6 separate regions of the Homo sapiens genome follow, and regions 2, 3, 4, 5 and 6 are each linked to region 1. Evidence: fine-mapped QTL for protein levels in blood plasma. A gene starts in region 1. Each other region holds a variant in brackets. All regions are shown on one strand. Distances are between the middles of the regions.

Region 1 (4,088 bases):
AGAATATACAAATGGACAACGGTGGGACCACATATGATAACAGAACTCTGAGCCACAGTCTGCAATCGGCCAGGCCAGAGAACCAAACTGCAGCCTCTGCAGCAATCAGCCCAGAATGGTCAGGTTTGGTTAATGACTGCCATCTTCTCTATTTTTTGCTCTGCTTCCAACTCAGGACCCCTCAGAGAAAGCCAGATACACTCCCAACTGGATAACTTCAGATGCCGTGCCTCTAGTCAGCTGGTCCCTGATACCAACAACCTCCAACCAGAGCAGATCTGAAGATTTCCCTTTTTTCCACTGTGAAACTTTCCCACTCCCCTGCCTGCCTTTGAATCTTGGCCAAACATAAGTGATGTCTCGCTACAGCGAGCTCTGAATAAGTAGCCTCTGTTTGTCCTCATTTGGGTAGTCTACATTTATTTACACAAAATTAAGAATTTTGCTCATCAAAAGTCCCCATAGGAGGACAAGCTTCAGAGTGGAACAAGATATTTGTCATATATGTAACCTCCAAAGAGCTAGTACACAGCATATATGGAGAACTCCTAAAAAATCAATAGGAAAAAGACTTCAACAGGCACTTCACAAAAGAGAAACTCAAACAATCTCTATGAAAACACTCCTTGGCCTCATCAGTAATCAAAGAAATACAATCATCCTGTGCAGAAGGCATAGCAAGCATCGTCATTCTCCCCCACGGCTCAGAGCGGTAACTGACTTGCCCCAGAGAAGCCTCAAGCATGGGCTCAGACCCTAGGCAGGCCCAGGACTCTGTCCCATGCCTCCTCCACTCTCTCTGGGGAGTCAAGGGCAAGTGCCTTCTCACTCCAGACCCCGTCCTCTCATCTGGAGAAGATGAAAGATCTTTAAGGCCCTTTTCAGTTTAAAAGATTCTGCCTTCCTAAGCAAAGGGAGAGCCAATGATGGGAAGAAGAGGGGCAGAGAGGGATTGTGGCAGAGGCACAATCTACCCACAGTCATTAATGTTGGGGGGAATGGAAAGCCCTGGCTGGTTGCCCACTCAGTTCAATGAAAGCTCAGCACTCTGTTTAGCAGCACTAAAGAATGTAGGCAATCTTTTAGAATTTATCATCTGGAAATCTGTCTTCCTTTGTCCTTCAAAAACAAAACAAAGCTCATAAATGGTAATAGTAATGATCAAAATGTGCATAGTAGTAGTATTTCCATTTTAAGGATGAAAAAAATCAAGGTCCAGGGAGGTGGAAGAACTTGCCCAAAGCCACAAAGCACAAACAAATAGAATCCAGGGGTTTTTTTTGTACCATGGTACTGCTACCGGACTGCACTTCTCTCCTGTCCCAAGATCTGCCTCGCTCCCGGCAGCCTTTGGGACATGTAACCCTGTGTAGGCAGCCTCTGCATCCCATTCCGCAGGAGGCAAACCAGACTTCTTATTCTTGAACTGTACGCTTTGTGCTTTATCTCTTCAAAAGCACACACTCCTCTCACACACCCATTGCCTAAGCAACATGGGACACCAGCGGGGCTAAACCACTGGTTGTCCTCTGAGCAAAAGGCACGCTTACCTTGCCCCAGAAGCAGCAGCAGCTCCAGGAGGAAAATGCCTGGCCGCAGCCCCATGCCAGAATGCTCCAGGTGACTCGGGCCTCTGGAAGAGCTGCTCCAGCAGATGGATGGGCTATCACACCTCCTCCTGCTTTTATGTTCCTCTGTGTTCTGATAGAGCACCTGTCATAAATTTTACTGTGTTCACCTTTGAAAGGGGGTAGTGGCGGGCTGTAAATGATAAATATTAACACTTAGGCGGAAGAGTTCTTAAGGCAGATGAGTCAATGATGGGTAGCATGTTCTAGTCATAGACACTGACAGACCAGGGCCGCATAGCTGCCTCCATACAGCCTTCCATGATGGTGGGTGCCCAGAAATTGCCGGTGTTCGGGTCTGCTGGGAAGAACGTGGGCCTGGGAATCCCAGGTGCTGGTCGGAATTCCAAATCAACCACAGCTGTGGGAACTTGGGTGTATCCCTTAACGTGGCCTCAGCTTTCTCAGTTGTAAGCCAGGAGATCAAAAGTACCTTGTAACAAATGTAAACCATAAACCTACCTCCAAATGTGAAACGTGTTCCCACCGTGTCTCAGAAGCTCTGCTAGGTTCCCTGGTTTGCATGACACAGAGAGGTTTGTTCTGTTCCCCCCATCTCCAAACCCATGGGTGGCCAGTTGTGTTGGGTGGATGTGCACACCATAGATTTGTTGTCTGCATGTTGAATTCAGAGATACAAGCCAGAGAGGGGGAACCAAGTTTGACAAAATCAGCCGTTTCCTTTGGGTAAACTAAGTCAGGAATGCAGGCTGGGTCTAAACTGGGCAGACAAAGCTGGCATTTAAAGCCTGAGTGACAAATACCCTTGAGAGTAGAATTTAAATTTTTTACACAAATATCAAGAAACAATTGCCTTGGTTGATAGGAACAAATATATTTAAATTATCCTTGCTTTCTGGCCATGCTTGTGGGTGTGAGGCTGGGATCCTGACTTCTGAGGTCTAGCTAAGACTCTAGGGCTGGTTCCCATGACCCAACCTCAGATTCTGATCTCCTGGCTGACCCACTTTTCTCATATTTAAAAATCACAGCCAGACACAGTGGCTCACACCTGTGATCCCAGCACTTTGGAAGGCTAAAGAAGGAGGATTATTTGAACCCAGGAGTTTGAAAACCAGCCTGGGCAACTCCATCTCTACAAAAAATAAAAATAAATTAGCCAGGCATGGTGGCATGCACCTGTAGTCCCAGGTACTTGGGAGGCTGAGGCAAGAGGATTGCTTGAGCCCAAGAGTTCAAGGTTGCAGTGAGCTATGATTGCACCACTGCACTCCAGCCTGGACAAGAGCAAGATTCCATCTCAATTAAAAAAAAATTGTTTTTAATTACTGTTATAACCTCTATTGTCTTGAGTAGAAAGTGAAGACGAAGTGAGTGGCCCTTTGTTCCTGAATCTCTGGTTTTAGGATGTTGTCTCCCTTTCTCAACTGCTCAGAAAATATGTGACTTGTGGGTCACCACTGATTTAGCCAATGCCAAAGGCTTAGCCTAAGCCTCAGGACTGTAGGGGGGTATTGGGACATGCCAGAGGTGTGTGGACACTGACACACTTAGTCCAGCTGGCCATCAGCTAGTTCCAGAGCCTAGAAGAGGGCAGCACACACAGACACACAGAAAAGGAAGAAGAAAATACACCCAAGGCCAAGGTCTGTGGGGGACAAGTGAGCACAGATGCCCCTGGATATGTAGACACTTGTCAACTTCACCAAACTGCCCCCAAGTTCAATGAGAAGCCAGAGCTGCTGTCCCACTAAGGATGTCAGGAGTTTACCCAGCTCCATGCCACCAGCAGCTTTGAGGAGCATCACTGAACTTGCCTGGGCTGAATAGGCCAAGGTCCCCACTCATGTGCAGGCCAGCTGGAGGTGGGGTGGAAAGGACATGGGGCATGCGCAGAAGTAAGTTGGTTCCACGCTCCAGGTACTCGCTCCATCTCTTAACTGCTTCTCTCCAGGACTACCACAGCCCAACTGGGTTACCATCCTTCCTCTAACTCCTTTCACATTTAGAAAAATTGAGAAATGCCTTAAAAACATTTGAATGTTGGGAAGGCATTTTGGTATGGGATAGACTGGATGTCCTTTTAGGTAGAATAAATCTCTGAGTTCCATCCATGCATCAAGGAATCCTCACCAACTGTGAGGCTGTAGGGGAAGCAACATTTCTTAGACACTCTTTTTAAAAATTTTTTTGAAAAACAGAGATGAGGTCTCACTATACTGCCCAGGCTGGTCTTGAACTCTTGGGCTCAATCAATCCTCCCACCTTGGCCTCCCAAAGTGCCGCGTTTACAGGCATGAGCCACGTCGCCCAGCCTCTTGGCACCCTTACAGCATCGCAGCTTAACTGGCACCTACTATTTATGTGGTCTAGTAGCAGCTATGAAAACAAGGGGAAAGTCGTCTGAAGTCAAAGGCTCCATCACTTGTCCATAAACTTTTGTTCTCTGACTTTTGCTAGAAAATGTCCTAAGAGGACATGTCCTATAAAAGGGGATGA
Region 2 (4,088 bases), 84 kb before region 1:
GGCTGGAGTGCAGTGGTGTGATCATGGCTCACTGCAACCTTCACCTCCTGGGCTCAAGCAATCCTCCCACCTCAGCCTCCCAAGTAACTGGGACCATGGGTGCGTGCCACCACACCTGGCTAATTTTTGTATTTTTTGGTAGAGATGGGGTTTCCCCATGTTGCCCAGGCTGGTCCTGGGCTCAAGTGATCCATCCACCTCAGCCTCCCAAAGTGCTGGGATTACAGGTATGAGCCACCGCACCTGGCCAGAGTCCCCTTCTTTCTGTATTCAGTCACAGTGGGCAATATTGAAATAGTGTTTGTCTTTGGGGCCCCAGCCTGGACACCAGCCCCATGATCCTCAGGTTTGTCATGGCTGTGGCCCTCAGGGAAATGCCTATGCCTCTTTTTTTAATTTTATTTATTTATTTATTTATTTATTTATTTATTTATTTATTTATTTATTTTTTTGCGTGGAGCTCTGGATCTACTCCATATCCACTAACTGTAGAGCCAAAGCATCACATCTCCAGGCCCCTCTAACATGGGGATGTCCGAGCAGATGACTCTAAGATCTCCTGCAATCTGAGCAGCCTCTGTCCTATGGCCCGATCTCTTTTTCTTGGAGCCTCAGTGTCTGGGGCTACTGAGCACACCCTACATGTATGAAAGCACACCCTACATAAATCAAGGCAATAATGGGAGGGGAAGAGGGGAAGAGCGTCCTGTGAAACACCGGCCACACCAAGCCTAAACACATTTTAACTGTTTCTCCTGATCTCGATATTTGCGGTTTTAAAGCTTTCTCAGCAGTGGAACTCTTTCTCTGATTGAAATCTAACCAAAAGCCCTGCTGTATGGAACATATGAAAGCTGTGTCACTTAACATGAGCAGGGGAGGGGCCCAGGGTCCCACCTCCCCACGGGCTACCAGCAGCCCCAAGGCTCCCCTCTGGGCCCTTCAGATCACAGCTTGAAAACTCCTGACTCCTGGTGACTTTGATGCCAAGAAAGTGGGTTGTGAGGGGCCTGGGGGCTGGGGCATCCCTCCAGGTAGGTGCTCACAGGCCAGAGCAAGGCCACTACTTCCTAAACCTCACTCTGCTGGTCCCCTTTCTGTCTGACAAACCTCCTCATCTTCAAGCCTGAGCTGGAAAGTCTCCTGCTCTGTGTAAATCTCTCCAACAACCCCCTTTCCCACACACCAGGGTCCCACAGCAACTTTGCTTTTTTTTTTTTTGAGATGGAGTCTCGCTTTGTCACCCAGGCTGGAGTGCAGTGGCATGATCTCAGCTCACTGCAACCTCTGCCACCTGGGTTCAAGCGATTCTTCCGCCTCAGCCTCCCAAGTAGCTGGGACTACAAGCACTTGCCATCACAACCAGCTAATTTTTGTATTTTTGTAGAGACAGGGTTTCACCATGTTGGCCAGGCTGATCTTGAACTCCTGACCTCAGGTAATCTGCCTGCCTCGGCCTCCCGAAGTGCTGGGATTACAGGTGTGAGCCACCACACCCAGCCAACTTTGCTTTTAGACCTCTCTTCTGTGTGTATCCCTACAACAACATCCTGATGTCTGCTTTGTGCTGTGATGAACTGCCTGTCTCTCTCTCCGCTGGCAGTGCAAGTTCCTGAGGACAGGGCCTGTGTTTCCTTCACCACTGCCTTGCTCCTAGTACATTCCTGGCATAGGCGTGGGTGGGAGACTAGTGGGTATGCCCTGTCAGGCTTCTATCAGCTCAGAGACTGAGGTTCCAGGAGGACACGCAGCATCCATGGAGCAGCAGCCTTGATCTTGGGTTTCCCACCAGCCCAGAATGACTTGGCTCTGAAGCTTGCCCAAATGCCTGCAGGAAATCGACCTTCCCATACAAGTGACAGCACAAAGGTGGAAAGGGCAAGGCTGCTGGAGACTGGGGAAGGGAGCTAACCTGTGACTCTCTGTGAACATGGGAAAGATTTTTCTAGTCATTGGGTGTTATCTTGCTTTCTAGAATGATATGATCAAGCTCCCTTGATAGGAAACTTAATCAGGATCAATCTTATAACTAATCCTGCTTGCCCAGCTGAATGGTTCCCTGGAGGTGAATGCCTTCTCAGTCTCAGGGTTCATCCCAGGCTGGATCCAAGACAAACCATGAGCCTGAGTCCCAACTTAGCTGTACTCCTCCCGGGCAGAGCAAGTGACCGGGCTGTGAAAATCCTTCTCTGGGGGTGAGTCTTGAGTAAAGTGCCTGGAGACCTACCAGATCATTGCAGAAATCACAGAGGTCATT[G/A]CCGCCTATAAACAGGGTTATTATCTTCCAGTCTTCCTGAAAGTGTATCCTCTGAAATGAATAGAAACACAGAAGTAAGCACCTTGTCCCAGAGTCAAGTCAAGGAAAACACAAAATGCTTGCAAACTAGAAAAGATGGGTCCTCACACACCAGAGTGTCTCATGGACTTCTGAATTTTCTGTTCCTTGCTTTTAGGGTCCTGAGATCATAGGTGCTAAATGGTTCATTTATTTTAGGTGGAATCACTGAACTTGCATGTGGCTCTGTCCACACACAAAAGCACACACGTCAGTTTCCACGTGTCCTGGTGGGAGTGGATACAGATGCCCTCTGAGCTCTGTTCCTCCATCTCCAGCATAGCAAGGAAGTGGGGAAGGGATAAGGAAGCTGGTTTTGGCCATGGGAAAGGAATGTTTGTTCCAGAATCTTCTAGAAATCCTGAATTCTAATTGTGCCTTAAGGGAGAAAGACCATCTTTCATTAAGAGGGAGCTCTCCAAATTTGGAATACTCACACTGGTGACTAGTTCTGCCCATGAACTAGTCAAGCCAGAGAGGCTGAGTAGGGTAAGGTGGCAGCTCTAAGCACAAGCTCTGAAAAGATTTTGCCACCTCTGGGATCTGTCTCCTCCAAAGAGGACCTGGAAAAGCATATGAAGTCACAGGGCTGTGTGGAGAGGGTGCAGCCATACACATTCCATAAACTATGGCCCCAGGGCAGCCACGGCCCTGCAAGCCTCTTATATTGCCCCAGGCCTACATAGCTTTGCTTCCCTGATCTACACTTCCAAAAGAGCGTGGAAGGAGGAAGGTGAGAACAAGATCCAGGAAAGTTTGACATTAAGGGTAGAAATACCCTGAGAACCTCCCAATAATAGACTTTGATGTACATTAAATTATATATAACATAACTCATCCTAATCTTCCTTTTTATTTTACCCACCTAGAAACCCCTGCAAAAAGCCTCTGAATTGAGACCGTGCTTTCATTTGAGGGAGAGCTGCATATTCATCTTTCAGAACCCGGCTCAAACATCTCCTCTACTTTTATTTTTTGGTACTGCTCCTTGCAGACCAGGGCTCTCCCGTAGGCCATGTGCCCAGAATAACAGCCAAAATCTCCTTTTCAAGCCTTCCCTGACTGTCCTAAGCAGAGGCGCCGGTCCCTTCTGCACCCCACCGTGTCTTATACAGAGCCCTTTCGGTGGAGCACGTGGCAACTGTTTTATAATTTGATTCTTCACATTGGTCTCCGCTTCCAAGCTCCTTGAGGACAGGACTGTGTTGTATTCTTTTGTGCATCTGCAGCCCCAGCCTGATGCCTGACTCACAGTAGATGTTTAATTTCAACAGCCAACTGACTGAACAAATAGGAATCCCCTTTCCAGAGAAGCAGTGTTTTAGGCTTCAGATGTGTCTGCTAGAAACCCAAGCCGGGCTCCCAACCATCCCTCAATCCACAGCTGATCTTCTCTGTGTCCAGGGATTTTTCCTGCCTACTTCCCATCCCAGGGACCCACCGTGTCATTCTTCATCAGGTCCACCAGCCTCCTGGCCTGGACAGGTAGATCCCTGTGGAAACATACCAGAGGAAGTGCTGTGAGGAGTGGGGACTGGCAGGGGCCCTTAGCAGAGAGAACAGCAATCAAATGTATGGTGGAGGAAGGCCCAGGGTGGGCCTCCTGCAGGAAAATGGACTGAAGGCCGTGTCGCAGAGCTTCTTCCCCATTCAGGCTCCACTGCGGGGGTGTGGGGTGGTGACTGTGCTTGGGAAGGCCAGAGCACTGCACGTAGGAGGGGGTGATTCTCAGTGTGACTATTTTCCTTTTTGT
Region 3 (4,088 bases), 35 kb after region 1:
CCTGAGTGACAAACTAAGAATCTATATTAAAAAAAAAAAAAAATCAGCAGTTAGGGGAAATAACAGAATCCAGAGTCTCCACAACTTAACAATCATAATGTTCAGAATATCCAAATTATTTCATATATGAAGAACAGGGAAAATGTGATCCATTTTTAAGAGACAAGACAATCAACAGAGACTGACCCTGAGATGACCTAGATATTGGAATTAACAAAATCATAATTCTCAAGTAGCTATTATAACTATGCTTTGCAAGCTGAGGATGATACATGTACAACAAATAAAAAGATAGGAAACCTCAGCAGAGAAACTTGATTTAGAGGAAAACTAAATAGAAATTCTAGAACTGGAAAAGATAATGTTTGAAATAAAAGATTCACCAGTTTGGCTTAACAACAGTGTTCAGATAATAAAGGAGTCAACAACCTTGAAATCAGATCAGTACAAAAAGTATCCAATCACAACAAAGAGAACAAAGATTGAAAACAAACAACAACAACAAAAACACAGAGCCTCAAGAGCCTGTAAAAACAGTATCAAAATGTTTAACATGTGAAATGAAACCCCAGAAGGAAAAAAGAAAGACTACAGGATAAAAGAAGAGAAAATATTTGAAGAAACAATGGCTAAAATTTCCCCTTATTTGGTGAAAGACATGCATTTACAGACTCAAGAAACCCAGCATACCTCAAGTAGGATAAATACAAAGAAAATCTCCCTTAGGCACATCATAGTCCAACTGCTAAAAATCAAAGATAAAGAGGAAATCTTGACACAGCCCAAGAAAAAAGATATGTTACACATGGGGTGGAAAAAAAATCAAATCACTGGTGACTTCTCATCAGAAACCATGGAGGGCAGAAGCCAGTTTTTCAAACCCAGATTTATGAAATATCCTTCAAAAATGAAGGTAAAACAAAGAAATTTCCCCAAAAACAAGAAAACTAAAAGAATTCACCATTAGCATCTTCACTACAAGAAATGCTTAAGAAAGTTCTCAGGCTGAAAGGCAACAATACAGAAGACAAATGTGGATCATTAGAAACAAAGGAAGAGTGTGGGAAACAGTAAAAAGCTAGGTCAATACAAAAATCCTGATTCCCACTCTGACCCACCTAAACCTGCTTTTTCCCATAGACTTGCCTGTCTTGGTGATGGAAACACCGGCTTAATGGTTCCCAGGCAAAAACCATGGCATTCATTCTTTTTCTTACACCCCAACAAGGATTCTTGTTTCTACCTTCAAATTAAAATGTATTCAGAATCTGACCATTTTTTCTGCCTTTCTTTGTCTTCCTGGTCCAAGCCACTGTTTTGTTTTTTTTTTTCTTATTTCTAGAAGAGTTTTGAATACACCTGGATTGCTGCAATAGCCTACTCATTGATCTCCTATTTATTTTATTTTATTTTATTTTGTAGAGGTGGGGTCTCAGTATGTTGCCCAGGCTGGTCTCCTGACTCGCCCTCCCAAAGTGCTGGGATTACAGGTGTGAGCTGCCACACTCAGCCCTGATCTCCTATTTCTACTCCTGGTACTGTACTGGTGATTTTCCACATAGCAGCCAAGGAAACCTTTTAACACCTATGCCAGTTTTTCACTCTTTGCTCAACACTCTCCACTGGCCTTCTACCTTATCAAGGAAAAGAAACGAGTCCTTAGCACAGTCTACAAAGGCCCCGGGTGATGTGGACCCAGATACTTCTCTGATCTTCCCCTCTTTATACACTTCCTCCTTCTCTTGCTGTGATCTGGCCACCTTGGTTTCCTTGCTGTTCCTCAAAGACACCATGTACCTGCCTCAGGGACTTTACATTTGTCCTGGTATCTTCTCTGGTAACTACAGGACTCACTCCCTCAGTTCTCTGTTCAAATGATGCCTCATCAATGAAATGTTTCCTAGCTACTCAAAATAAAATAGCAATAGAGCACACATTTCCTATCTTGCTCTGTTTTTCTTCTTAACACTTACTGCCTTCATATTCAATTAAGCAATTGTTGAATGAACGAATGAATGGGTCTTTTTTTTTTTGAGACAGGGTCTCACTTTGTGACCCAGACTGGAGTACAGTGGCATGATCTTAGTTTACAAGGCGTAAGATATAGGCAGGTGGAGGTCCCTGCAGCCTTGACCTCCCAGGTTCAAGCAATCCTCATGCCTCAACCCCCAAGTAGCTGGGATCACAGGCATACTATTTTCGAGACAGAGTCTCACTCTTTCACCCAGGCTGGAGTGCAGTGGAGCAACCTCTGCTCACCGCAACCTCCG[C/T]CCCCCGGGTTCAACGATTCTCCTGCCTCAGCCTCCCAAGTAGCTGAAATTACAGGTATGCACCACCATGCCTAGCTAATTTTTGTATTTTTAGTAGAGATGGGGTTTCACCATGTTGGCCAGGCTGGTCTCGACTCCTGACCTCAGGTGATCCACCCACCTCAGCTTCCCAAAATGCTAGGATTACAGGCATGAGTCACACTGCCCTGGCCTAAAAATTTTTTTTTATTGTAGCAAAATATATGAGAAAGAAGAGAACCTTTTTATCTGCACGCTCTTTAGTTATCAGGCCCAGAGAGGCAATGAAAAGTAACAACATCACATTCCGTTTCAAGGCATCTGTGAGACTGCAGAACAGGTGGCAAAGCTCACCCTCACAAGCTGAAAAAAATTATGGACAAGAAGTTATCACTGAAATTAAACGGTGGCAGACATGTCCAAGGAATGCTGCGAGGATTTATCCCTTTATGAACCTTGTGATAGATGAATGTGTGGAGATGGCAACTAGCGAGCAACAGAACAATATTGCAATGCTGGTAAGATGAGGAAATAGTATCATCATGTCAGAAGCCTTGGAACAAGTGTAAATAGTGGCTGTTCAACGGAGACTTTCATGTCCCCTCTCCAAAGGGTCCATTTCACTATGATGTAAAAATTAGGTCATGAAAATTTTCATATTAGACTTTTTGTTAAATAAACTTTTGTAATAGTTAAAAAAATAAGAAAAGTGACAGCATGCCACATCTCATCCTCTCCACCATCTTGGGCTAAATAATTATGTCTTACAGCCCCTTGCTATGTGGGCTCTAAGACTAACTGACACCAAGTAGCTATAAAATGCCACACACTCTGGATGCCATAACTCTTACCCTATAGTTCAACAATGTATAGCCAATTACTAATCAATGTTATTTCCATTAACCAATGAGAATTCCTGACAAACAACTTTTTATCAGCCCACTCATTGTCTCCTTTTGCCTTTTTGACTAAAATGTTTAAGCAATTAAAAAAGTTTTTTAAGAGACAAGGTCTTGCTATGTCACCCAGGCTAGACTCAAACTCCTGGGCTCAAGCTGCCTCAGCCTCCTGAGCACCCGCCCCCTTTAACTTTTAAAACCCTGCTTGTGGCCAGGCGCAGTGGCTCATGCCTGTAATCCCAGCACTTTGGAAAGCCAAGGCGGGCGGATCACCTGAAGTCGGGAGTTCAAGACCAGCCTGGTCAACATAGTGAAACCCCATCTCTACTAAAGATACAAAAATTAGCCGGGCGTGGTGGTGCACACCTGTAGTCCCAGCTACTCGGGAGGCTGAGTCAGGAGAATCACTTGAACCCGGGAGGCAGAGGTTGCAGTGAACCGAAATCGTGCCACTGTACTCCAGCCTGGGCGACAGAGCGAGACTCCGTCTCAAAAAACAAAAAACAGAAAAAAACAAAATAACCTGCTTGTAGCAGAGGCCAAACAGAGCATTGCCAAGACAACTTGGAAGTGTGTCCTGAGCTATAGTCCTTAACCTTGGCCCAAATAAACTCTTTATATTAATTTTGCCTCCATTTCTTTCTTTAGATTGACATAGCCATAACATAAAATTTACCATTTTAACCATTTTTAAGTGTACAGTTCAGCGGTGTTAACTACACCCACAATGCTGGGCAACCAACACCATCATCCATTTCCAGAATTCTTTATTTTTTTTAACTTTTAATTACAGGTACATGTGCAGGTTTGTAACTTAGGTCAACATGTGTCATGGGGGTTTGTTGTACAGATTATGTTATCAACCAGGTATTAAGCCTAGTACCCATTCGTTATTTTTCCT
Region 4 (4,088 bases), 120 kb before region 1:
AGGGTCATGTAGCACAGGCAGGTAGATCCCAATCCCTGACTCTACCTGCCTCACTGGGCAGGGAGGCCTAAGGGACTGCCACTGGGACTATAAGGAGACAAGAAGTAGCATCCAATGGAGAGCTCTGTGCACCTCCACATGGAAGCCCAGCTGTGGCGGCAGGCCGCAGGATCTAGGTCTGCACTGCAGGGGAATTAGCAAGTCCTGCTTAAAGCTCCAGGGTATGTTTGCAGGGTCTCCCCACAACCTGATATTCGGCAAGGCCCTTAATTGAAGGAGATGATGATGTTTTCACTCACCAGAGGTTGGAACACTATTGGAAGCCTTCCACTCTGTACACAGGAAGTCACTGCCCCAGTTCTAAATCAACAGGAGAAAAGATTCAGTGCCCAACACTCATTGTGCAGGGAGATAAGCTTCAGCCCAAGAAGAACCAGCTAAGGGATTTTTGATGGAGGCTAGAAATGAGTCACCATACAGGATCATGTGAGGGAAAGAACTGTGAGTTATAGGTGGGCTAGGAGGGAAATTAAAGGGGGAGAAATGGGTGTGTCTAGCTACCCCTATGCACAACCCATAGTGCATGTCTCCACATGTGCACCCACACACCACCTTTCTTATCCCCATATATCTATGCTTTGAATGGAGCCAGTGGCTGCCCCAAAGCAGGGAAGAAAACCATGAAGTCCTACACAGGTGGGTCTCCCAAAGGAACACAGCATTTGGATGCCTAACATGAGATTACAGGTATGTGTGTTTTATAAAATTAAGCTAACTGACACTAATTATAATGGTAGAACCTAGACAATAATTAAAATATTTTTAGAATAATAACACAAAATATTTTAAAATTGTAAAGCTCCTGGTTTCTGCCTGTCTTTTCTGGATACCTGTATGTCTTTTTGCATATTTAACTTAACAGCCTTATTCCTTATATGTTTTTAAATTGATGTAAGCAACCCTGGATGCTTTTAGTCAATTTTCTTTGTCTCTAATACAGAACATATTTTCCAGGTGCTGGGGAAAGGAGTGGGATGGGAAGCAGAGGGCATAGAAATGATTAGTACCAGAAATCTGGGGGAAAATTGAGTATCTTCCCAAAGTCTCAAATATATGCATACTGAGTATGGAGTAGGGCTTGACCAGCAGATTGACTGTCCAGGAGTCTGACTGCCAGATGCTATGAAAACTCATCTCATCTGTTCAGTCAGATGATGAAGATAAGACTTGTTGAAATATTCCTATCATGAGAGAGCAAAAATGGAACTTCTTTTAAATATTATTTGCTTAATCCTATGGAATTTGGTTTTTTCCCAAGGGATTGCTCAATTCATCATTCTGATGGATTTCTTCTGTTTAAAGGTTTAATGAACTCAAGAGCATGCTTGTGTGCAGATGACAAATACTCACAGAAAATGCAACGTAAAAAGTTATTCAGCCATCAGCACATGAGATATATCTCAGATAGTTGGTGAACCAGAGATAAGCATATTCCATGTAGATTAACAGATCCTGGTTGGAATTGAAACGTGCTCATCCGTCACAAGGGAAGAACCATGCACCACACCCAAAATCAGTGCATCCAAATCCCCTGAAGATCTTAAGCTGCAGATTCTGATTCAGCAGGTTTGGGGTGGTGCCCAGGACTCTGCATTTCTAAAAAGCTCCCAGGTAAAGCCTCTTTGTGGCCACTTTATTAGTTTTGCTTTTATTATTTTTAATTGACATATTAAGTGTACATACTTATGAGGCATAGTGTGATATTTTGATACATCTCTACAATGTGCAGTGATCAAATCAGGGTAATTAGCCTATCCCTCACTTCAAATATTTACCATTTCTTTGTGTTGGGAACATTCAAAATCTGCTGTTCTAGCTATTTGAAAATATATGGTAAACTGTTAACTATAGTCACCCTACTGTGCTATAAAACACTAGAAATTCTCCTTCCTATATAGCTGTAATTTTCTGTTAATCAATTTCTGCTATCTCTACTCCCCAACCACCATCCACCCTTCCCAGCCTCTAATAACCACTATTTATACTCTACTTCTGTGAAGTCAACTTCTTAAGCTTCCGCATATGGTGAGAACATGTAGTATTTGTCTTTCTGTGCCTGACTTATTTCACTTAACGTAATGTC[C/T]TCTAGGCTCATTCACGTTACCTCAGATGACAGAATTTTGTTTCTGTGGTTACTTTGAGTAGAAAGCTGTTAAAACAAACACACGCCCTTCTAGCTCTGGGATTTTTAGCTCTTCCAGCAGCAAAAGCAAAGATGCATGAGACTGAAGAACCAAGAGGGCAGATCCAGACCCATTCGGCTCACCACTGTCTACCGAGCACTTAGTGCAGTGCCCACTCTACATAGGCATCCAATAGGTAAATGAATAAATGAAGAAATGCCTGATTCACAAGATGCAGCTGACATTTCAATTCTCAGGGAATTTGGTCACTGGTTCAATGAGGACAAGCCTCCACTGGGCTAACGTGAGCCTGAGAAAATTCAGAGAGGCTGGACACAGCATAACCCGCAGCCAGCAATCTGGTATTGCTTGCACCCCAGAGCTTAGCATCCAATAGTTCTTAATGATTTCATATGGGTTAGTTTCTTCAGCTGGCTTATAAAATGTCTTTCCCCAATCACTCCTGCTGATGGCCAACCCATTCTACACATAGCAGTCAGGGAGATCTTTGAAAGACGTGAACCAGATCATGTCACTCTCTCCTGAGACCGCCAATGCCTTCCCATCTTTCTCCACTTGAAATCCAGTGGTTTTACTCAGTAATTCAGGCTTTGTGTGATCTGGCTCCTTGGCACTCCTGATCTCATTTCCCCCACTCTCCACCTCATTCTCATGCCCCCAGCCACTCTGACCTTCTTTCTCTTCCCCAAATACACCCAACACAGTCCCACTTCTGAGCCTGTGTGGTCCATGGTCCTTCTGCCTGGGACTGTGTTCCTGGCTCCCTGTATAGCAAGTGTCTCCTCATTATGCATGTCTCAGTTTAAATCTCACCTCAGGAAGGCCTGGCCTGCATGGTGCACCTGAATTTGCCTCCCTTGCCCCAGCCCCATCACGCTCCTCAGAGCTGTCATCACTATCTGAAATGACCATGCCTAGCCATGTATATAAGACACCTTTCTCAGTAGATTGTAAGCTACGTGAGGGCCGGGATCCATCTGTCTGGTTAACATTTCTGTCTTCCTGGAATAGTGTCTGGCACATAGTATGTGCTCAATAATTGTGAAATTCTACTGGGCTCTCACTTCCCTTGGTCCGGACCATGTTCGATACTTCTCTGCATGCCTTCTAGCCCCTAACATGAGACTGGATATAATATAGGTGTGAAACTGAAACTGCGGGTCAAACCCCATCCTGGTGACCAACAGACCTGATCCGGACCAGGCCTGACTGCCAGTCATGGTATAGTCCGGGGTCCTCCAGGCCGTCTTTGCAGTGGCCGTCCTAGGCTCACAGACATGGTTAATCCAATGGAATTAACCATGGGCTCTGAATCCTCAGCACTAGAATGATTGACTTGAACCAAACAAGGCCTAGGGGCCCACAGGAACATGAACGTGCCTCCACTTCCTTTTGGGTCCCATCCCCAGAATTGTAGTTCCCTCCCACTCAGCCTCCACCTTCCAAGAAGTCAACGCCACATCACACCAGCTGCCTCTCCCTCTTGAGAGGCTGAGCTGCCTAAGCAGTAACCACGTCTGTGAGCCCAGGATTGCCAAGGTCAAAGAAAATCGATCCATAGACACTTCCTCTGCTTGGGGGCTGACGTCAGGTAAGCAACTTGAGAACATGTTAGGACAATCCTGGGGCTTCGTGGTCCGGGAGCCTTTTCTGTACATTCCAATCCCCAGTATGTAAGAAGTACATTTCTGCTTCAGTGAATACTCTGAAACCTGTACCACACCCGAGCCCCTGGCAGGTGGAAATGGTTTGTGTCTGAGAGAGGCAGATGTGAGTCAGGGGTTACCTCAATGGCTGGCTTGATGGGGTACGTGTAGTTACTATTCCGAGGGGTTCTCAGGAAGGGCTCATTCTAAGAGAAAAAAAAACACATGGAGAAGTTAT
Region 5 (4,088 bases), 43 kb before region 1:
ACTGATGACCAAAAGCATTCCAGAATGAATCTTCGAAGTTCCTCACTATCTTTTGCCTCAAGTACCCCCACTGTCCCCCAACTCGCACCCCTACCAGTCCTGCAGGCCCCATTTTATATGCAGGAATACTGAAATCACTACCACGATGTGAAGCAAGAGTAGCTCTCTTTGCTCCTGACTTAGTCCTGAATTCAGCTGGAGAAGTCCTAACATTAGCAAACTCAACTAATTGTCCCTATCACTCCTGTTCTCCTTGGCGACCACGCCACCCCGGTGAGCCAGCAGCTTGGGATCCCAGGTTGGGCTCACCTGATAAGACCACTGCATCACCACCTTGGCCAGCCGGGTGGTCTCCTCTGAGCAATTACAGGGCTCTGGTGCAGGGCTGCAGGTTAAAACACACCAGGAATGAGAGAGGGGAGGCAGTGTGGGCAGGGAAGGGGATGCATCCAGCCCGCCTCTTATGGAAGAAGGGGCATAGGAGTTGCTTAAGGAGTAGGGATGAAGAAGCATAAGTCTTAGAGGACATAAATGTTGAGAAGAATAGAGGGTGGGTGGTCCCTTCTTGGGGGTTGGGTATGGGATGGAGGGAAGCTGTTCCTGGGGGGTGGGTATTGGATGGAGGGACGTTCTTCCTAGGGGGTCGATATGGGATGGAGGGAAGCTCTCCCTAGGGGGTGGGTATGGGTTAGGGGGTAGGTATGGGATGGAGGGAAGCTCTCCCTGGGGGGTAGGTATGGGATGGAGGGAAGCTCTCCCTGGGGGGTGGGTATGGGATGGAGGGAAGCTCTCCCTGGAGGGTGGCTATGGGATAGAGGGAAGCTTTTCCTGGGGGGTAGATATGGAATGGAGGAAAGCTCTTCCTAGGGGGTGACTATGGGATAGAGGGAAGCTCTTTCTCCCCCTTCATCTCTCAGTCCTCCTCCTCCCCGCTCACTGTTCTTCACACCAGACACCCACATCCCATTCCCCTTTCCCTCCCCTGTACCTTCTCTGTCTTGCATCCTCTTCAGAGCCCTCCTTCCCCAGCACCCCACTTCTCTCCTTTCCAGCACTCTCTTTTCTCCACCGCCCTTGCCCTGACTTTTTCCACATGAACTTCTTTTCTAGGTCCAGAGCCAGAATTCTTAGGATTTGGCTCCAAAAAGTTTAAAGTCTATGAACATTTTCAGAAATATATAGGAATCAAGTTCTGTGAAGTTAAACTACATTTAGGCTACGTTTTTCTATCCAATTTCCAGAAGTAACACTTCTTAGCTTATGGATGTTTTGCCAAGGCGAACTCTGAAATCACTCTGGCACTGAGGAGAGCCTCTGGCACAACATCAACCAGAATAAAAGAATAAAGTATTTTATTCTTTGACTCAGTCCCCAAAACAATGCTTGGCAGAGGGCCCACCCCACCCCGACTCTGCCACTCGCTCGGGTGTGAGCTCGCATGTGTTTCTCGGCCTCCTTTGGCCTCTGTTCTTTAGGGCTCCCTCATAGATTACGGCACATGAAGGGCCCCCACAGGCCGCACACGTGACAGCCGTGTCACAGATGCGTGTCTCATTCCACTTCCCCTTTTACCTGAGCCAAGTGCCGTGATACTGACGAGAGACCTCTGCAACCTCAGAGAGGTCCACCAGGTTTA[C/G]AAATGCTCTGGGGACCTAGGAGGACACACAGAGAGGGAGGTGAGTATTTGCCAAGTCGCCATGGCTGCCGGGCTTTCTGGAACTCCTGCTTGGGCCCCGTTGGGGTGTGGTTGAGTGTGATGGGCCTCCCCTTGGTTAACTGGGCCTGATCCTTTGGGAGATGTTTGGTCAGGGTCAGTCTGCGCTGCCAGCCCTGCATCTGTGCCATCCAGAAACAGGACTCTCTGTCCCTCACGGTGGGCGGGGCGCCTCCCACCAGTGTCCACAGGGGAGGGAGACCACTGGGGCTATGGGCCTGCAGCCTCCTCCAGCAGAAAGCTGCCCTCCAGGGGAGCAAAGCGGAAGGCAGGGCCACAGCAACCCCCAGCTGATTCTCAGACCCTGCAGCAGCATCACGGTCACTGAGCAGAAAGGTCTTGAAGGTCCTCAGGCCCCCTCCATCTTATCCTCGCCCCAGTCTCAGGTAGAGAGAGGCCTTAGGGAAGAGCAGGGCCACCGAGGACTCAAGGAAGAGCCGAGTTTCTCTCAGAAGTTTCCTTTGCAGGAGTGGAGTGTGCTCTCCTGGCCCATGTTCTCATTTGAAAGGATGAGAAGATGGGGTGCTCTAAAGTTTCCCCTTTCCCGAGGGTCCCAGTCTCCCTCACAGGGGTCCATTTCCCCACCCCGGTGGAGGCCACATGAGGGTAAATGGGCCCCACTGCCCTTGGGGAAGCCCTAGGCCCGTGGCCTCACCTCCTGCTGCAGGTAGTCCAGCACCCCCATCAGCTCATCCACGCCGCCCGCCGCAAGCCCATTCTGTGAGAGGAGAACCGTGCTAAGTGAGGGTGCCTGCAGGAGGACCACGAGGTGAGGCCACCCAGACTCACAACAGGCCCATCCCTGCCAGGCAAGACCACAGGCAAAGGCACCATCTAGACCTGGCATTCCACAAAGGAGGACAGAATTCCCAGAGCTTCCTAGTTTTGTCTTCATTTTGTTCTTCTATTTTCTCCCCAACCCATCATCCACCTGGGAAAAACCAAACTCCCCACAGGTGAAAAGTTCCATCAGGAAAGGGCAAACTCAAAGTCAGAGCAAGATCAGAAATACCTGGTGTGATTCTGAAGCTCACACTGAGGGACAGGAGACTTACTCCCAAAGACTTGAGGAATCGCTTTTTCCCAAAGAAAATCAGGTCCAACAGGGAAATACAATTAACCCTGTATTTAAGGCCCCAGATGGGCCTCGGAACCTTCATGTGATCCTATTTTATTAGCTTTTCTCTTGCTGTGTTTGCCCTAAGATAAGCATTCCTAGAGAAAGAGTATGAGTGGGTCCTGCCACCTGAGTATTTAAAGACATCTCCCACGCACCCAACACACACACCACTCCCCTTCCTGCAGGTCATGAAAATCAACAAATGAAGGACCTCAAAAACGGACCCTGCTTTACCTTTTTTTTTTTTTTTTTTTTTTTGAGATGGAGTCTCGCTCTTTTGCCCAGGTTGGAGTGCAGTGGTGTGATCTCGGCTCAGTGCAACCTCCACCTCCTGAGTAGCTGGGATTACAGGCGCCCGCCACCATGCCCAGCTAATTTTTGTATTTTTAGTAGAGACAGGGTTTCACCATGTTGGCCAGGCTGGTCTCAAACTCCTGACCTCAAATGATCCACCTACCTCGGCCTCCCAAAGTGCTGGATTACAGGCTGGGTGCAGTGGCTCATGCCTGCTTTACCTTTTCAATGTGAAAAATAATAAAAATTACAAGACAAACTTCTAAGTTTGTCCCCTAACAAACAGCAGACTGGCTGTCCCCTAAGGCAACTTGGCTCAGACAGGAAGACAAGGAAGGCCAAGGAGCTGTTCTGTTTCCCGGAGGGGACACAGGCAGTGACTCTGGAGACAGCTGTCAATCACCTGGGCTGGCACCACACAGGAGGAAATGCAGTGTCCCTGTTTCTCTGCCCCTTCACCGGCTGTCCCTGCTTTGGTGTGAGGCTGGCTTCTGGGAGGCCGGGTCAGCCAGGTCTGTTACCGTAAAGCCTTCTGTCTAGTTTTCTCCTAAGTGAGCTGCTCCCTGACCGTGACATCAAACATCACCCTCTCTTTCCTGAAGAGCCCAGGGGAACTCTGTCTAGAGGCATCCTCGCTGCCCATCTGAACCATACCCACCGTCCCTGGAGAGGCGGGGGACCCTGTGTGGCTCTCTCTAGAGTGTGAATCTTGCTGTAGAAACCCCTGGTCAAGGTGTTTACTTGCAGCTGCAGAGGGAATTGGGGCCCACCCAGTCATTCCAGGCACTGCATGGTTGTCGCTCGGGACACCAACTGTCCCCATTTCTCAGTAAAAGACATTATGCTCCTATAAGATGTCCCTCCTCTATAAGGTCATACATAATAAACTCCTAGAACCCAAAGTCAGGAAAAAGCTGATTTCTTCAAATGAACTTGTACATTTCCATGTGTATCGTTTGC
Region 6 (4,088 bases), 100 kb before region 1:
ATATATGGTATTTACTGTTCTTTTTCTTCTGTGTCTCTTTTTCGAATCCCAGCATGTTATATTCCAGGTCAATGGATTTTTTTTTTTTTTTTTTTCGAGACGGAGTCTTGCTCTGTCGCCCAGGCTGGAGTGCAGTGGTGTGATCTCCACTCAATGCAAGCTCCGCCTCCCGGGTTCATGCCATTCTCCTGCCTCAGCCTCCCGAGTAGCTGGGACTACAGGTACCCGCCACCATGCCCAGCTAATTTTTTCTGTTTTTTAGTAGAGATGGGGTTCCACCGTGTTAGCCAGGATGGTCTCGATCTCCTGACCTCATGATTCGCCCGCCTCAGCCTCCCAAAGTGCTGGGATTACAGGCGTGAGCCACCGCGCCTGGCCCAGGCCAATGGATTTTAAGAACGTGGCCTTAGCTTCCAGCCCACCAGCAAAGACTTCTAAGGGACAGGCCATGAGTCATAGTTGTTCTTCATTCAAGGAATGCTTGGAATGAAGTGGACTATTGCATGCCAGAGTGGTCAAGGACTTAAGTCAGAGGCTCTGCAAGCAATTCAGGTGGTAGAGAGAAGGCAGATGCCGTAAATCTTACCCTTCTCCTTCACTCAGTTCTCGCTCCCCACCCTTCCGTTAGATGTCTGAGCCTAACTTGCTCGTGGATGGGCGTTTGTTTAAGCGTCTGATTCTTTTCCAGCTCTGCATGAAGCTGTTGCTTTCTAATCCTTCTTTTTCTGGACTAAAGGCACCCAATCAGAATATTTTACATTTGAAAAGAAGTATAAATTTATATACCTCTGCCAATCACTTGTGTTCTAATTCTGCCTCCTTTTCTCCTTCAATAAAGATATAAACATAGACACACAAACACAAACGCATCAAGTACTTCCTACTGTAATTTCTTGTTTAAAGGTATCTTCATTTTAAAACAAGTATGGTGGCTAATCAAGACCAACAGGCTATGAAAATCTCTCCCTGACTTCCATTTTAAAGTGAAAACTTCCAGAAGAAAAGGATTATGACAAATAAACACAAAAGCGCAAAAATATTCAAACTCTCATTTTGATCAGAACCATGAAACGTGAAAGGAAGTAGACCCATATCAAACAGCTAGTCCACCTTAGACCCTTCAGATGGATATCATTTATGTTACACTCAATTTATGTTACAGAGCTCAATGGCTGGGCTCTGGTCATCTGTTGTCACCTAAAGTGTACAGAAAAATAGAGTAGATGCTCAGTAACATTTGTTGAAGGAGTTTCAGTCATATGAGATTGACCCCCTAGTTAATAAAACAAAGGCAACTTTTTTGGTAAGTAAATTTTATTTTGATCCTTTGAATGGTCCCAAACAAGCGAACTTATTTCAATGGAAGAAAAGGCAATGCTCTCAAGACCTTGGGGCCCAGCACATTGTTAAGCTGGCCAAAGCTGGAACCGTTCACTACAGAATCTCACAGGTCAAGGGGCCTTGGAAATATTCACAGCCGAGCCTCTTCTGCAGGTCCTGTTCACAGCCACCCACCCCCCATGAATTCTGGGTCTACTTCTCCCCTAATTCCATGAGATCCACTCTTTTCACTTTGTTTCCCAGGGGGAAGAGGCTCAAATTGCATTCTGAATTGATCTAGTATCATTAATTGCCTAGTTTGTCCAATCTAGAAGCTTTAACGGCTCAAAAATTGCTTTTCTCAGATAAGTCTACTACGTGAACACTTTCAGGAGGTGTTAACAGGTGTTATGAACAAAGAAAATGTTCTGGAATTAAGGGAAACATTGGGTTAAACAGATAAAACTTAAATAGATTTCTGCATTGCAGGCCTTATGAGAGCCTTTAATATGCTAATACACACATGAATTCCCCAAAGGAAGGTTATGGTAATGTTTCCCCCTCAGATACAAAGGATTTTCTCTTCTCCAGGAACAGGTCTGGAGTTAATGTTCCATGGAACACACTTTGAGACACAGTAGTCTATGTATTCTACCAAGTGTCAAGCTGTCTCTCAGACCCCGACCTAGAGCTTCCATCTTTAACACACGTGCATTTGGGGGCAGCTATTTGAAACATTTAGGACAAATGAAGGGTTTAAAGGGACAGCAGCCATTGAACCTGAGGCCTTAGAGCTAGAACTAAAAGATTGAGACATTAGGCTGTAATGGACTTCACTTGTTGGAAGAAACAGAGCAATGGCTGAATTTTCCCATCGCTGCAGAAAGAAACTTTTAGTAGAGGACTGCTGGTTCATATCTGAATCCCAGGAGCCCAGCTGGTCGATCTGTTTTAAAGTAGGGCACATCACCTCACTTCCCCAGGCTGCCCCACCAGGTGCACGTCGCGTATCTATCACCTGCAATGTGGTTCGTCT[G/A]CTTGATTTTTGTTTCCCATGCTATCGTATGAGGTCATTGCCTTCTTTAGCTGAGACCAAGTGCAGCTGCCAGAACCTCATGCTCTTTCCTGATTGTAATAAGCTCTGCTTTCTCTCCTCTGGTTTTTTTTCTTGTAGCCTCATTAGGAGCAGAATGGTGAGTCAGTGAGGCTCTGATTTGTTCCATGGCAGCCTGTTAGGACCAGGTACCTGACCAAGGACTTGTGGAAACGCAGGGACCTTGGCGCAGGAAGGCACTGACCTCTGTTCTTGAGAGGTTGATGTCCTCATGCTAAGGACAACCTAGGTCCTCGTTGTGGGTGGTACAGGCCGAGTGATGGCGCCTCCCTCTCGCCCTGGAAACCCATCCTCTCTGGGACTCTGCTCAGGTCTGGCCAGAGAACCTTCACAGTCTTGATCACCCCCTCCCTGCTCCCTGTCACTTCCCCAGGAAGCAAACTGACTCAGAAGAAAAGGGAGGCGGCAGCAAAGGTGCTGTCCTGGCTCCGCCACTCATTAGCACGCTGCCCCCTTGTGGCCAGCTTCGTTCTAGTTGTTTTCCCAGGTAAATTCTGAGCTACTCGCCACTTACTTTGAAGCCTACAGGAATGAGAACTTTATTAGGAGAGAAAGAAACTTGAGAATATCTACACGCAACCGCTCGCCTGACACACCCTGAGCTTCTCCACTTCCGTGTTCGGGATGCCCTTTCTCACCCTTTCCTCTTGTCGAATTGCTAATCTTTCAAGACATGGCTGATTGTGATTGTGTCTTGGTTATGGCCTCTCGAAGTGTGCGATGGGTTTCAGAGGTTTTCTGTGCAGATGTGTACATATATGTAAAGGCAGCTGTGTGACTACAAGACAACATGAATAAACACATAAAGACAGTAAACAGAGACGTAGGAACACCACGTGTACACGTATACATGCAAGCGGGGAGGTGAAGATTCAGGGATTTGGTGCTTTTCTGGTGCATTTCCTGTTGGATTTGCTGACCCAGGAGTCTGATAAGAACCCTGGTTTACTTTCTCTGCACAATCAAAAAAAAAAAAAAGATTATCAACAGTAAAATATCCTCTCCACTCACCAAATGTTCACATTTTGCAGAAATATATAGCTTTTTCTTTCTGAAAGCCCCTTCCAGACCAAGTCTTCGACCTCTGGGATTTACATATTTACAGGAGACAAAGCCACACCTAATCTCTGTTGTGGGGGGAACGCTGGGAGAGGTCAAAGGTTAACATTACCTGTATGACAGTCCCCGATACTGTGTGGTGACATCGGGGAGGTCGTCTGGTTTGGAGCCAATTCCATTGCCAGCCTTTGAAAATATACCAGAGTCCATAGGAAAATTAGCAAGTCAGAGAACAGGGAGGCTGTGAATGCACAGGGCTTCCAAAGAGGGGGTTCCCAATGCACTCGTGGTGGCAGGAGCAGACATGGAACCAGGAGCCCCTGGCTCTAAGTCTGCCATCCTCCTCTCCAGCTGTGTGCCTTCCCCAACTCTTAGCTGCCTCCTCGCTGAGCTGAGGACACGCCCTGCTCATCTCACAGGGAGTGTTTTGGGGATCAAATTGGATTACAGTTGTAAAAACCACTTTGAAAACTCTCAAGTGTTTTACAAACGTGAGAGAGTGTTAATAATGTCGTTCCCAGCGTTATGCCCCTACGTTCTTTATGAGCATGAAGAGAGAGCTCATTGGCTTAAGCGACTGCAGTGGACAGATCTC

Alleles and levels. Positions count from the first base shown, and alleles are read on the strand shown. Strength reflects both the effect of a copy and how common the allele is.
In carriers of allele A in region 2, the plasma level of the protein whose gene starts at base 1,660 in region 1 tends to be lower than with G alone (weak association).
In carriers of allele T in region 3, the plasma level of the protein whose gene starts at base 1,660 in region 1 tends to be higher than with C alone (weak association).
As copies of T replace C in region 4, the plasma level of the protein whose gene starts at base 1,660 in region 1 goes down (weak association).
In carriers of allele C in region 5, the plasma level of the protein whose gene starts at base 1,660 in region 1 tends to be higher than with G alone (strong association).
For the plasma level of the protein whose gene starts at base 1,660 in region 1, allele G in region 6 goes with a higher level than allele A (strong association).

The links. PIP is the posterior inclusion probability: the model's chance that the variant is causal. The UK Biobank Pharma Proteomics Project read protein levels with antibody pairs (Olink). The fine-mapping took linkage between variants from a reference panel, not from the people measured, so its PIPs are less certain.
Region 2: its variant is fine-mapped to the plasma level of the PLB1 protein (UK Biobank, PIP 0.99). The variant lies in the coding sequence of PLB1. If it changes the protein, the assay may bind it differently, which can mimic a change of level.
Region 3: its variant is fine-mapped to the plasma level of the PLB1 protein (UK Biobank, PIP above 0.99).
Region 4: its variant is fine-mapped to the plasma level of the PLB1 protein (UK Biobank, PIP above 0.99).
Region 5: its variant is fine-mapped to the plasma level of the PLB1 protein (UK Biobank, PIP above 0.99). The variant lies in the coding sequence of PLB1. If it changes the protein, the assay may bind it differently, which can mimic a change of level.
Region 6: its variant is fine-mapped to the plasma level of the PLB1 protein (UK Biobank, PIP above 0.99).

What each region holds. Positions count from the first base shown.
Region 1 is chr2:28,493,632-28,497,719 of GRCh38, reverse strand. It overlaps PLB1 (phospholipase B1), which reads right to left and starts at 1,660. Exons shown (of 58, transcript NM_153021.5): 1 at 1,551-1,660. The coding sequence starts at 1,605.
Region 2 is chr2:28,577,847-28,581,934 of GRCh38, reverse strand. PLB1 (phospholipase B1) reads right to left here. Exons shown (of 58, transcript NM_153021.5): 22 at 3,777-3,828; 23 at 2,228-2,308. Among named protein-coding and RNA genes, the nearest start is that of PLB1, 84 kb to the right of the region's middle. The variant G/A (reference allele first, on the strand shown) is at 2,258.
Region 3 is chr2:28,458,903-28,462,990 of GRCh38, reverse strand. It overlaps the pseudogene SNRPGP7. Among named protein-coding and RNA genes, the nearest start is that of PLB1, 35 kb to the left of the region's middle. The variant C/T (reference allele first, on the strand shown) is at 2,271.
Region 4 is chr2:28,613,999-28,618,086 of GRCh38, reverse strand. PLB1 (phospholipase B1) reads right to left here. Exons shown (of 58, transcript NM_153021.5): 44 at 3,991-4,056; 45 at 300-360. Among named protein-coding and RNA genes, the nearest start is that of PLB1, 120 kb to the right of the region's middle. The variant C/T (reference allele first, on the strand shown) is at 2,144.
Region 5 is chr2:28,536,663-28,540,750 of GRCh38, reverse strand. It overlaps PLB1 (phospholipase B1), which reads right to left. Exons shown (of 58, transcript NM_153021.5): 10 at 2,370-2,432; 11 at 1,573-1,652; 12 at 310-385. Among named protein-coding and RNA genes, the nearest start is that of PLB1, 43 kb to the right of the region's middle. RefSeq lists a silencer at 1,235-1,529. The variant C/G (reference allele first, on the strand shown) is at 1,637.
Region 6 is chr2:28,593,272-28,597,359 of GRCh38, reverse strand. PLB1 (phospholipase B1) reads right to left here. Exons shown (of 58, transcript NM_153021.5): 33 at 3,606-3,679. Among named protein-coding and RNA genes, the nearest start is that of PLB1, 99 kb to the right of the region's middle. RefSeq lists an enhancer at 304-598. The variant G/A (reference allele first, on the strand shown) is at 2,357.